Homo sapiens: one gene and its partners. The protein of the gene in region 1 purifies or fractionates together with the protein of each later gene. This does not show direct contact. Each region holds a gene or a part of one and is shown on either strand. Other genes may lie near its edges.

The links.
Region 2: the proteins of PLBD1 (region 1) and ATP6V1A purify together in Homo sapiens (co-immunoprecipitation; one large-scale study listed by IntAct). This does not show direct contact.
Region 3: the proteins of PLBD1 (region 1) and PPFIBP1 purify together in Homo sapiens (affinity purification with mass spectrometry; one large-scale study listed by BioGRID and IntAct). This does not show direct contact.

Annotation. Positions count from the first base shown.
Region 1 is NC_000012.12:14,557,763-14,561,418, forward strand, and holds part of PLBD1 (phospholipase B-like 1 precursor), read right to left. Parts: intron 1-3,656. UniProt on the Homo sapiens protein: In view of the small size of the putative binding pocket, it has been proposed that it may act as an amidase or a peptidase.
Region 2 is NC_000003.12:113,791,933-113,795,588, reverse strand, and holds part of ATP6V1A (V-type proton ATPase catalytic subunit A), read right to left. Parts: intron 718-3,656; coding exon 595-717; intron 500-594; coding exon 385-499; intron 1-384. UniProt on the Homo sapiens protein: Catalytic subunit of the V1 complex of vacuolar(H+)-ATPase (V-ATPase), a multisubunit enzyme composed of a peripheral complex (V1) that hydrolyzes ATP and a membrane integral complex (V0) that translocates protons.
Region 3 is NC_000012.12:27,677,603-27,681,258, forward strand, and holds part of PPFIBP1 (liprin-beta-1), read left to right. Parts: intron 1-1,886; coding exon 1,887-2,037; intron 2,038-2,330; coding exon 2,331-2,459; intron 2,460-3,656. UniProt on the Homo sapiens protein: May regulate the disassembly of focal adhesions. Did not bind receptor-like tyrosine phosphatases type 2A.

The DNA of each region.
Region 1 (3,656 bases):
ATACAATGACTCCTGTGACACACATTTACCTATACAGTAAACCCGCACATGTATCCCTGAACTTAAAATAAAAGTTAAAAACAGAAATACCATTCAACCCAGTAATCCCATTACTGGGCATATACCCAAAGGAATATAAATTGTTCTATCATAAAGACACTTGCATACGTATGTTCATTGCAGCATTATTCACAATAGCAAAGACACAGAATCAACCTAAATGCCCATCAGTGGTAAACTGGATAAAGAAATTGTGGTACATATACACAATGAAATACTACGTAGCCAAAAAAAAAAAAAAAAAAGACTGTCTATCAAATATGCACTAAAAGTAGAGTCTTAATACTAGAGCATCATGGCACCGTGCTCCCGGGGCTCGGTGATAGGCTGGGGCTTAGTCAGGCTTAGAAACTAATCCTGATTAAACGCTTAAGGAATGATCTGAGTAGGCCTAAGTCAATTGACTTCTGAGTACAATGACCATCATGGCAGGCCTTCACAATCGTTAATCGGAAGTAATGGCATTAAGAAATAGGGAGGTGTCAAATAATTTGCCAATAAACTGCGGGTGACAAATAATTGTCTGATTGTTAATGGAGCCATTTGGCCACAATTTGACAATTGTAGGCAGCACCCACAGAAACTTCCCTTCTCCACCCAAAGGCAATAAATGTGTTTTCCAAATCCATTTTTGACCATATATCCCCAGCTTTTCTCACACATTCCCTTCCACCCTCGACTCCAGGGAGCGTTGTAGGGAAATGAGGAAGTGTGGCTGCTGGAATAAAAAGCAGAGTCATAAACAGGAACCATAAAAGAAAAAAGGAAGGTGTGTCTCTTCTCTTTTCTTTCTACCCACAAAGCATGATTTTAGCTTTTTCTTCTTCTCCAAAACCTTGGCATTTCTCATCGTAAGCACCCCAGGCCTGCCTTCCCCTTCCCTTTCCAATCAACTCCTTTTTGCTGTAATTTGGGGCTTGCTCAAGGCAACCTGAGTACTAAACCAAGAGCTATGTTTTCACTGTTGCTGGTCCTACCTAATTTCCTGACCACAAAAAGAAACTTCTGCAAATATGTGCTTTTTTGACACTCGTGTACCTCCATGAATGAAAAAACCTTTACTCAATCCCCAAGAGATTTTGGTGAGAAAAATGTCCTGCCAACAGCTTAGCATGTGCTTTGAGAATAAAGCCAAAATCAGAGTTTTCACTCCACTCCAACCGAGGTCCTCCATTCCTCAATGTTTTCTCTAAGTTTCAACTCTTCCTGGTTTTCCCAGTATTCATGCTATTTTCTGATTTTCTTAAATCCTGTAATAGTTTAAGCCATTATACTTTTCCATTTTTTAAAAACATCTTCATGATGGGAGGTGGCTGGTATGAAAAATGTAATAGTGAAAAGGTAGAAAAATAGTACATAATTCTAATGCAAACCTAGTTTTATACAAGCTCTGTGAAAGCGCGGACTGTTTCTGCTTAACACTCTATAAACCTGACAAAATAATGTTTCTTTGATGAATCTAGTTTGTGTGTGTTCTCTAAATGAAAAGAAAGCCATTTATTTATTTATTTATTATTTATTTTTGAGCTGGGGTCTCGCTCTGTTGCTCAGGCTGGAGTGCAGTGGCACAATCACAGCTCACTACAGAGTGGAATTCCTGGGTTCAAGCAATCCTCCTACCTGAGCCTCCCAGAAAAGGAAGCTCATCAGAGCACTCATTCACAGAAGTTAGTATGAAATAACTCAAGTAATTATGTTTTCAAGCCTGGGTGAGAAACTTACTAAATGGCTCGGAATCTTGGATTAAGTCTACCCAGCCCCAAGAGCAAGAGCTATTTGTTGGTATTTTCTTTAGAGTTGTGAAAAGGAAAAGTCAGAATTCAAACATTTTAACAGCAATATCCTCAAAATCAATGCACTTGATTAAATATCTGTTGAATGAATGGGAATCTTATTTATAAAAAGTATTTTTTTCTATAAATAAAGATGGAAAATGTGCCATCATTTTTATATTTCTCTCTGTAAAAGCCCAAACACCAAAATTAAATTTATTTTATTAATATTTACTTGTATACTCTGATTAATATTTTATTTATTTAATTTTTTTTTTTTTTGAGACAGAGTTTTCGCTCTTATTGCCCAGGCTGGAGTGCAATGGTGCGATCTTGGCTCACCACAGCCTCCGCCTCCCGGGTTCAAGCGATTCTCCTGCCTCAGCCTCCCAAGTTGCTGGGATTACAGGCATGCGCCGCCACGCCTGGCTAATTTTGTATTTTTAGTACAGACAGGGTTTCTCCATGTTGATCAGGCTGGTCTCGAACTCTTGACCTCAGGTGATTTGCCTGCCTTGGCCTCCCAAAGTGCTGGGATTACAGGCATGAGCCACTGCGCCCAGCCCAATTAATATTTTCTATGAGTTCATTGTTTTCAGTTGAAAAAATTCCTACCCTGTCTTAGGAAAAAAAATGTATAAAATACTCATAAGTAGCTTAAACTATTCTCTCCCATATTTGGATTCTATAATAATTTTTCTAGCACCTCATTTATGAAAGAGCAGGTAGTTTTCAACCCCAAGCAATGCAATGTTTACTTAATATATTCAGAAGTCAGAGGGGAAAAAAAGAGAAAGAAATGAGAAAGAGATCAAGCAAAAGATGTTGGAGAAAATAGAAAAAAATTAAAATGAAAACAATCTATTCATATTGGGTTTAGCTAAAAATTCACTGGTTTTGGTCCTTGAATTGCTTTTCTCTTTTATGTCTGCTCGGCTAGTCTCTCAGTATACCTCTGTGTACCTTGGCATTGCACTTGCCTTCTTTGAAAGGTCTCTCAGTAAATTGATACCTGGTTTTTGGATTTGTTTTGACTCTTCATCGGAGTCACTAACGAAATAACTGATTTGTAAATTAAACAATCTCCAGTAAACAAAATTGCAAGTAGGTGTTTAAGCCTTGGCTCTCTCCAGATATCAGAGACTAAGATGCCTGCTGGAAGGAGGATTATTTTGGCAAGTACTTCCAGAGAACAGGAGTGGTGGGCTGGGAGAGTGAAAGGGAGGAACACCGATTGAAGGGTGCATTCTGAGCTGGTTTCCACTGTGGACACAGGGGTTGATCCCACTGGGACTAGCCTCGGAAATCTTCATCCCAGGGATGGAGGACCCAGCTACCTGCTCCCATACTACAAAGGTCAAACGTTGCCCTAGGAAGGGTTAACTCCCTCACTCCATGTCTGCATGTGCTCCAGGACTAAGTGGCTGTGATTTCAGAGACGCCCTGAGGTGGAAATTAAGAGATTTCTACAGTGAGGTTGAGATGAGGCACCTCAGATCACCTGCAGGAAGTGGAAATAAAAGGCAAGTGAGAGGATGTGAGGTGGGCCTCAGGGTCAGGAAGTGCAGGACACACTAGATAAGTAGAAAGGGATACAGCTTTAAAAACTAGCTTCAAAACAACAATCCACAAATGCAGAAAAATGCCGGAGATTTGCTTAGATCTGGAATGATCCCTTTCCTTCATCCCGTTGAAACATACCGATTTGTCACTGGCAGCTGAAATCAGAGTTCTTGCCAAAAGCCCTATCAGCTGAAAGTCAACTTTGCCCCATTCTGGTTCCATGCTGTTAGGTCAGTCCTCATCTAGATTACTCATTAATTA
Region 2 (3,656 bases), on another chromosome or scaffold:
TAGATGAAGCAAGGAGGAAACGCTCTAAGAAAAAAGTATGGCTTTATGTAGTGATCACGAATCTTCACTTTCTTTTTACCGTGATGCAATCTCACCTTATTATGTCTATAATTTTCTAAATTATAAAAATTAAATAAATATCTAAATTAAACATATAAATATATAAATTAAAGTCAAACCTATGGAACCAGGACATGTAGAAATTGCCTAAACATGTGCATCTTCAAAGAGCTCCTTAGGTGACTCTGGAGTGCAACCCTCCTTAAGAACCGCTGCTCCCAGCGGGAGCTAAATATTCTCTCTTTAAAATAAGTGACTTTTTTTCTCTCTTTAATACATCTGTGACTTTTTTCCTTTTGCAAAGTAAATAGTGTGGGTGCTTACGCTCCTACAATGCTGACACTCCCTTCTCTTTCAGGATTTCCAAGACATTTCACCCTGCCTGCTCGTTCATAAAACGAGGCCAGACGGGCACCAAGATAGGCTGGATATCCACTATCTGAAAAATGAAAAGAAATTTTAAAACAGAGTTTCTAAGCCAGCCCCGAAAATCCCATCAGTCTTGTTTACATGATAAGCAATACACAGACTTACCTGCAGGCATTTCAGCTAAACGACCAGAGATTTCTCTAAGGGCCTCAGCCCATCTAGAGGTAGAGTCAGCCATCATACTGACATGATAGCCCATGTCACGGAAGTACTCTGACAGTGTGATTCCTAAATTGGGAAGAATATTATTATAAGTTACAATGCTAGCATATAAAAATCCTGTTTTTTTCCACCCTTAAGAAAACCTTAAAGCAATAAGTACACAACGTAGACTGCTAGTGGCTCCCTCAAAGCTGCTCTTCCTCTTTTTCTGGGCACACACTGAATTGTTTCCTAGCATCCTGTGCACTTAGATATGGCCATGTAACTGATCTCTGGCTAACAAAACTCAAGTCAAAATAATGTGTTCTACGGTCAGGCAAGTCACACGCTCTTCCATACTCTTTCTTCCTTCTGGCCTACTGAAATGGAAAGAACTCCCAGTAGTCTTGGAAGCCATGTGTTGAAAATGGTAGAGCTCATTTCAGGCTGGATCATGGCTCAGAATGACAGAGTAAAGAGTGCCCTGAACACTTGAAATAAACATCTATTATATTGAGCAAATATATATTTGGAATTATTTGATGCCATAGCCTAGCTGGCCCTAATATAATGCACATTTTAGAAAGCAGGAAATGACTTTCTCTATTCTTTGTTGAAATAATTAAGTCTGAAATTAATTTTCAAATGTAGCTTCTCTCTATATATCACATACACACACACAAACATGTATGCATGCAAAAGTAACCCTTAACCAATCAGCTTGGGTGGTTACTTTTCAAAAGTAGCAAATGTTATTAAAATGAGTAATATCTTAATTGTCCAGATTATTCTGCTATGCAGATCAGGTCCTATCCTGTAAATTTAGACAGTAAACCACTTATAAGCAGCTAATATACAGAAACGAGTGTTGGGTTCTAGTTCCTATTCTGTCATTAACCTTAGCAAAATAACTTGATTTCCCAGTGTGGCTTCCTAACCTATTAAAAATGGAATAACGCCTGCCCTATATACTTGTATATATGGCAGATGAAGTGAATTAAATAAATGTCATCTAAAAAGTACAAAGCGCTATGAAACACTAAGATATTAGGAAAAATATATAGTTATATTATAAAAGTTCCAAAAGATTTTGGAACTTTTATAATGCCTTGGTTTTTTTATTTTACTGGTAAAGAAACAGAGGTTTATATAAGTAAAATTAACATAATTAGTGGAAAATTCAGTACTTTCCTATTTATCATATTGCATCTTTCAGAATAAAAAATACTGACTGTTCAGGCATCCATAAAATGGTCTCATGAAGAAAGTCTTTAGGAAACATTACTTATCAATATTAAGGCTTCAACAACACAATAATTACCACATATTCCAATCTAATAAGAACAGATTCTTTCTTATACAAGCATGCTGTGTTTTAAATCTGTGATGAAATGTCACAGATACTTGTGATATTAGAAAGAAATGGCAGAAAAGACAGATACATATGAGTAAGTGAGAATTCTCTGACAGACCTACAGGTATCAGTGCCTACAAGAAAAATATGCCTCAGACAAAATCAAGAGATAAACAAGCTGGGACATATTTGCAACTCATGACAGATAAAGGACGAATTTATTCATTAATCAAAGAGTTTCTGGCCAGGCGCGGTGGCTCAAGCCTGTAATCCCAGCACTTTGGGAGGCCAAGGTGGGCAGATCCCCCGAGGTCAGGAGTTCGAGACCAGCCTGGCCAACATGGTGAAACCCCATCTCTACTAAAAATACAAAAATTAGCCAGGTGTGGTGGTGGTGCATGCCTGTAATCCCAGCTACTCGGGAGGCTGAGGTTGTAGAACTGCTTGAATCCAGGAGGCAGAGGCTGCAGTGAGCCAAGATCGCACCACTGCATTCCAGCCTGGGTGACTGAGTGAGACTTTGTCTCAAAACCAACAAACAAACAAAAAAAAACAACAAAAAACCAAAAAGAGTTTCTAGAAATCAGTATGAAAAACAACTATCATCCAAAAGGAAAATGAACACAAGGCAGTTTTTAAATGGTTCATACACACAAGAAAGATGCTAGTTCATTGTTAAATACAGATTGAACAGGTATCTAATAAAGCAAGAATAGTTAAAATTTCAATTGTCAAATCTAAGTGCTGGGTACATGGTATTCACTGTAACATTCTTTCAACTTTTCCGTATCTTTGATAATTATCATAAGAACGTGTTGAAAAAACTAGCATTGGTGAAGATGTTGAGAAGCAGAAACTCTTGTCCACAGTTAGCCCTTTTGAAGGGCTATCAGAATGTAAAATAATAATTAGCAGCTGTATTGGCAGGAATTTTGCTTCTAAGAAATTACCCTAAGAAATGTACAAAGAGGCCAAGCATGGTGGTTCATGCCTATAATCCCAGGACTTTGGGAGGCCAAGGCAGGAGGATCTCTTGAGGCTAGAAGTTGCCCATCCTGGGCAACATAGTGAGACCCCCATCTCTACAGAAAATAAAAAAATTAGCCAGGCATGGTGGCTCATGTCTGTAGCCTCAGCTACTTGGGAGGCTGAGATGAGAGGATCCCTTGAGACCAGGAGGTCAAAGCTGCAGTGAGCCATGAACATGCCACTGCACTTCAGCCTGGGTGATAGAGCAAGACCCTGTCTCTAAGGAAAAAAAAAACATGCAAAGAAACATGCATGCAAAACATACAAAGAATAGTGTAAAAATATATGTTTAAGGATGTTTTAGTGCTGCCTATCGTAAACGACGATAAAGAATCCAATAGTCCACCAAAAAGATGCCAGTTAAATTGATTATGATATATCCATACAAAGGGATACTGTGCAGCCATTTAAAAGAATAAGGTAGCTTTCTTAAAATGGTAGATGAATATGTCACTGTCTCTTCCTCATAAAACTTACCTCCAAACAAGGAGAACAAGAAATACAGAAATACAAATTTAGTCATTAAAAACTAGGAGACATAGTCCCACAACAATATAATTTAAAAAGTCACCTAAATAAGGTGAAAACCAAATAAGGGTATGGAAAAATGCCAAGAATTCATCTGAGGCCATGCATCTCAGAT
Region 3 (3,656 bases), about 13 Mb from region 1:
GGAGATAATATTTAGTGATGACAGAAGCAACTTTACTTGATATCTGAGGCGTTACCCCCCAAAGTGATTTTAGAAGAGGGGCAGCTCAGTTTTCCTCTTTGTAAGGCAGGGGACAAATGGGGAAAAAAGTTCTCAAAATAAAAAAGAGAAATATGGTAGTTTTAAGATGAGGATAAGCTAGGCAGCATTTTCAGGGGCACCTGTAGCCATCGTGGTTGAAGGATTTGAATTGGGAAAGTTCCTTTGGGTTTTTCCAAAAGGTGCTGTTACCTTGTATAGATATCCACCTATCTATTCACATGGACCAGCAAACGGGACTTCTCTCTCTATCGATATAAATGTCTAGAATGAACACTGGATGCATAAAATAAACTGATCTGTTCAGACAACTATTTTCAAATAGTTTTTTTTTGCATCTTTCTTAGAAGAACTGTTTTGTTAATGCTAAGAGGTAAATGCTGCTTATTATAACCTATAATCACAGCTCTGCTTTGTAGAAAAATCAACTTTCTGCAACTCATAGATCTTGCTGAAACACTGTTCTTGTGATTTTAGTACAACTTTTACTTTCTTTTATAAAGTATAAAATCTCACACTGAAGACAACAGTAGCCCTTGTGTTTGCTAGTATGGGATTGTCCACTAAGGGACAGCTAAAAGAACTGAAATAGTTAATGCTTGGAGATCTGAGAGTGGCAACTGTGGATGTGATTCTTTTAAGGTAAAATCAACAGGCACTTACTTTATGTCAAAAGAAAAATTAGGCATATCCAGTTCATTCTTCTCTCAGTGCCTAGGATTTAATAGATTGGAATACATTTCAAAAATAAAGAATTGCTTGAACTGGGTAACTGATTTGATGTAAATGCCAAAGGAGAAGGAGTAAAAGGAAAATGACATAGAGTCTGAGCTAGAGTAACAGGGACAGTATTAATTAATATTAACCAAATATCAAATAAGAACATTTAAGAGACGAGGCCAGGCGTGGTGGCTCACGCCTGTAATCTCAGCACTTTGGGAGGCCGAGGTGGGTGGATCACGAGGTCAGGAGTTCAAGACCAGCCTGGCCAAGATGGTGAAACCCTGTCTCTACTAAAAATACAAAAATTAGCCAGGTGTGGTGGCGGGTGCCTGTAATCCCAGCTACCTGGGACACTGAGGCAGAGAATTGCTTGAACCCAGTAGGCGGAGGTTGCAGTAAGCCGAGATCATGTCACTGCACTCCAGCCTGGGAAACAGAGTGAGACTCTGTCTCAAAAAAAAAAAAAAAAAAAAAAAAACATTTAAGAGAGAAAAAGACTCTCGGGGAAATTGGATGAGTTTGTGAAGTCCCAGATGTCCCGACACACTGAATTGGGAATATCACAGGCATTTAGATACAGAGCCTAGAGAGAGAGATTAGGCCCAGAGATTCTGATCCTCTAGAGGGCATTTAGAATATAATCTTAAAGTGGCATGGGGGAAGAAAAAAAAGCAGGGGTGCTACAGCAAAGACACTATCAGATGACAGATGTAGGAGAGTGGTCATGTCAAGAAGCAAAAGGAGATGATTTTGAAGGATGTAGCAGGTAATCAACAGTACCACGTGCTATGGAAAGATTGGGAATAATTCCATTATGAATTGAAATCACTCAAGGAAAGAATGTGGCAATCCTATCACATTCTTTTAATCTCCAAAGGGCTTGTAATTTTATTAAGTTTACACACAGTAAACTATGGAGCAGAACGTATATGTGTGTTCCATTTCTAATATTTACAAGGTGCTCTTTGTAAGTCACTGATTATAGACCAACAGAAGAATTCTTAACAGTTCTAGAACCAAGAAGATTAACATCATGTTTATTCCATATTTTAAAATTCATTGTCTGCATTCTGCTCTTGGAGTAGCTGAAACAGAAAAAGAGACAGCAGAGCACCTAGATCTGGCTGGTGCTTCTTCTCGGCCAAAAGATTCACAGAGGAACAGTCCCTTCCAGATACCGCCTCCATCTCCAGATTCCAAAAAGAAATCCAGAGGTATCATGAAACTCTTTGGAAAGTAAGTAAAGCAGTAAACAAGTGGAATGGGCCCTGTCTTACATGTTGCTTAAAAGTGGCTGGACATGGGTATGGACTTTGTAAGGCCTTTGTATTCCTCTTATGGAAGGAAGTTTGGATTGTGATGTGGGATTTATTAACTCATTGGGTCTTAGTTAAAGTTTAAATTTAAATGTCTATGTTAACAACACAAAGAGGATTAGTTCCAGTAGGTGCACTAGTTAAAAATGTTCTGATTAACAAGTCTAAGGCCTCCTCAGGTCTAATACTGGCCATGTGTGTTGTCTTCTTTAGACTTAGGAGAAGTCAATCAACTACATTCAACCCAGATGACATGTCTGAGCCTGAATTCAAAAGAGGAGGGACAAGGGCAACCGCGGGGCCCCGATTAGGTTGGTCTCGAGACTTGGGACAGTCTAACAGGTAAGAAGAGCCAACTGATAGACTTTTGCATCTCTACCAAGCATCATAGCCTCATGAGTCCTGCAGTATTAGTACTGTCATTGGGTTAAACAAAGTCATTGCTTAATGCTGTGCCTAATGAAAGGGGCCATCATCTTTAGAGCCGTGCAATTTGTCAATGGTTGATGAACAAACAGAAGGTGAGGGCTGTGCGAACTAGGGGAGAGGCCAGAGCTAAAGTGTCAGCAGCATCTGTGTTAGAATGGCTCTCAGACTTAAATTTTACGTAGATGGTAATTACAAGTACTCTAAAGCATAACTTTGGAAAGATGGGATAGCATAGTGGTTAAGAGTATGTTCTAGAATCAGACCACTTGGATTTGCTTTCTGGCCTTACCACTTTCTACCAGCTGGGTGACCTTGAGCAACAGCTTCCACACCCTGTGCCTCAGTCTCCTCATCATCATAATTAGTACCTACCCCAAAAGCTGACCATGAAGGTTAAATAAGTTAATATGTGTTAAATATTTGGCAGATAATAACTACTCAAGAAACATTAGCATGTAACAGAATCTATGAAAGCACTTAAAGACAAAAATGCTATCAGAATCCTTGTATTTATCAGGACTATATAATATTTTATCCATTAAGATTCTAAGAACTGCTCTGACACTCTTAACCAAAGTTTAGGGCTGGCTTAGAACTACTACATTGACTCACTGTGCATAAGAGGGTGGGGTTGGCAAACATAAAGTACAAGACATTGATACCAAATCTTTTAACAGTATAATAGACTGACTAGAAACCCTTTACATATAGCCCCTCCCATACAGGTGGAACACTGGACATAGGTTACATCAAGGAGGAAACTCTCTTTGGCCTTCTTCAAATACCAAACAGTTTCATTTGCCATATGTTGTCTTTGAACACAGTAGAGCTCCTTGTACTATTTAAAAAAAACCATTCATCTTCCCCTCCGCACCCTGCCCCCACCCCGGAACAAGAACACTATTTGTGTATCTAAGTAAAAGAAAACAGGAATTTTGCTTTGATTGTTTCCTACACTCAGTGACAACATATTGCCCTCTTCTCATTGGTTACCATATGGAAAGAAACCATAATTCTGCTAAAGTTAGTTCAAATTAGACTTAAGTTTCTTTCAGTCCAACTGAGTTTCCTGTTTGGGAATCCAATCTTCAAACAACATTGGTTAAAACT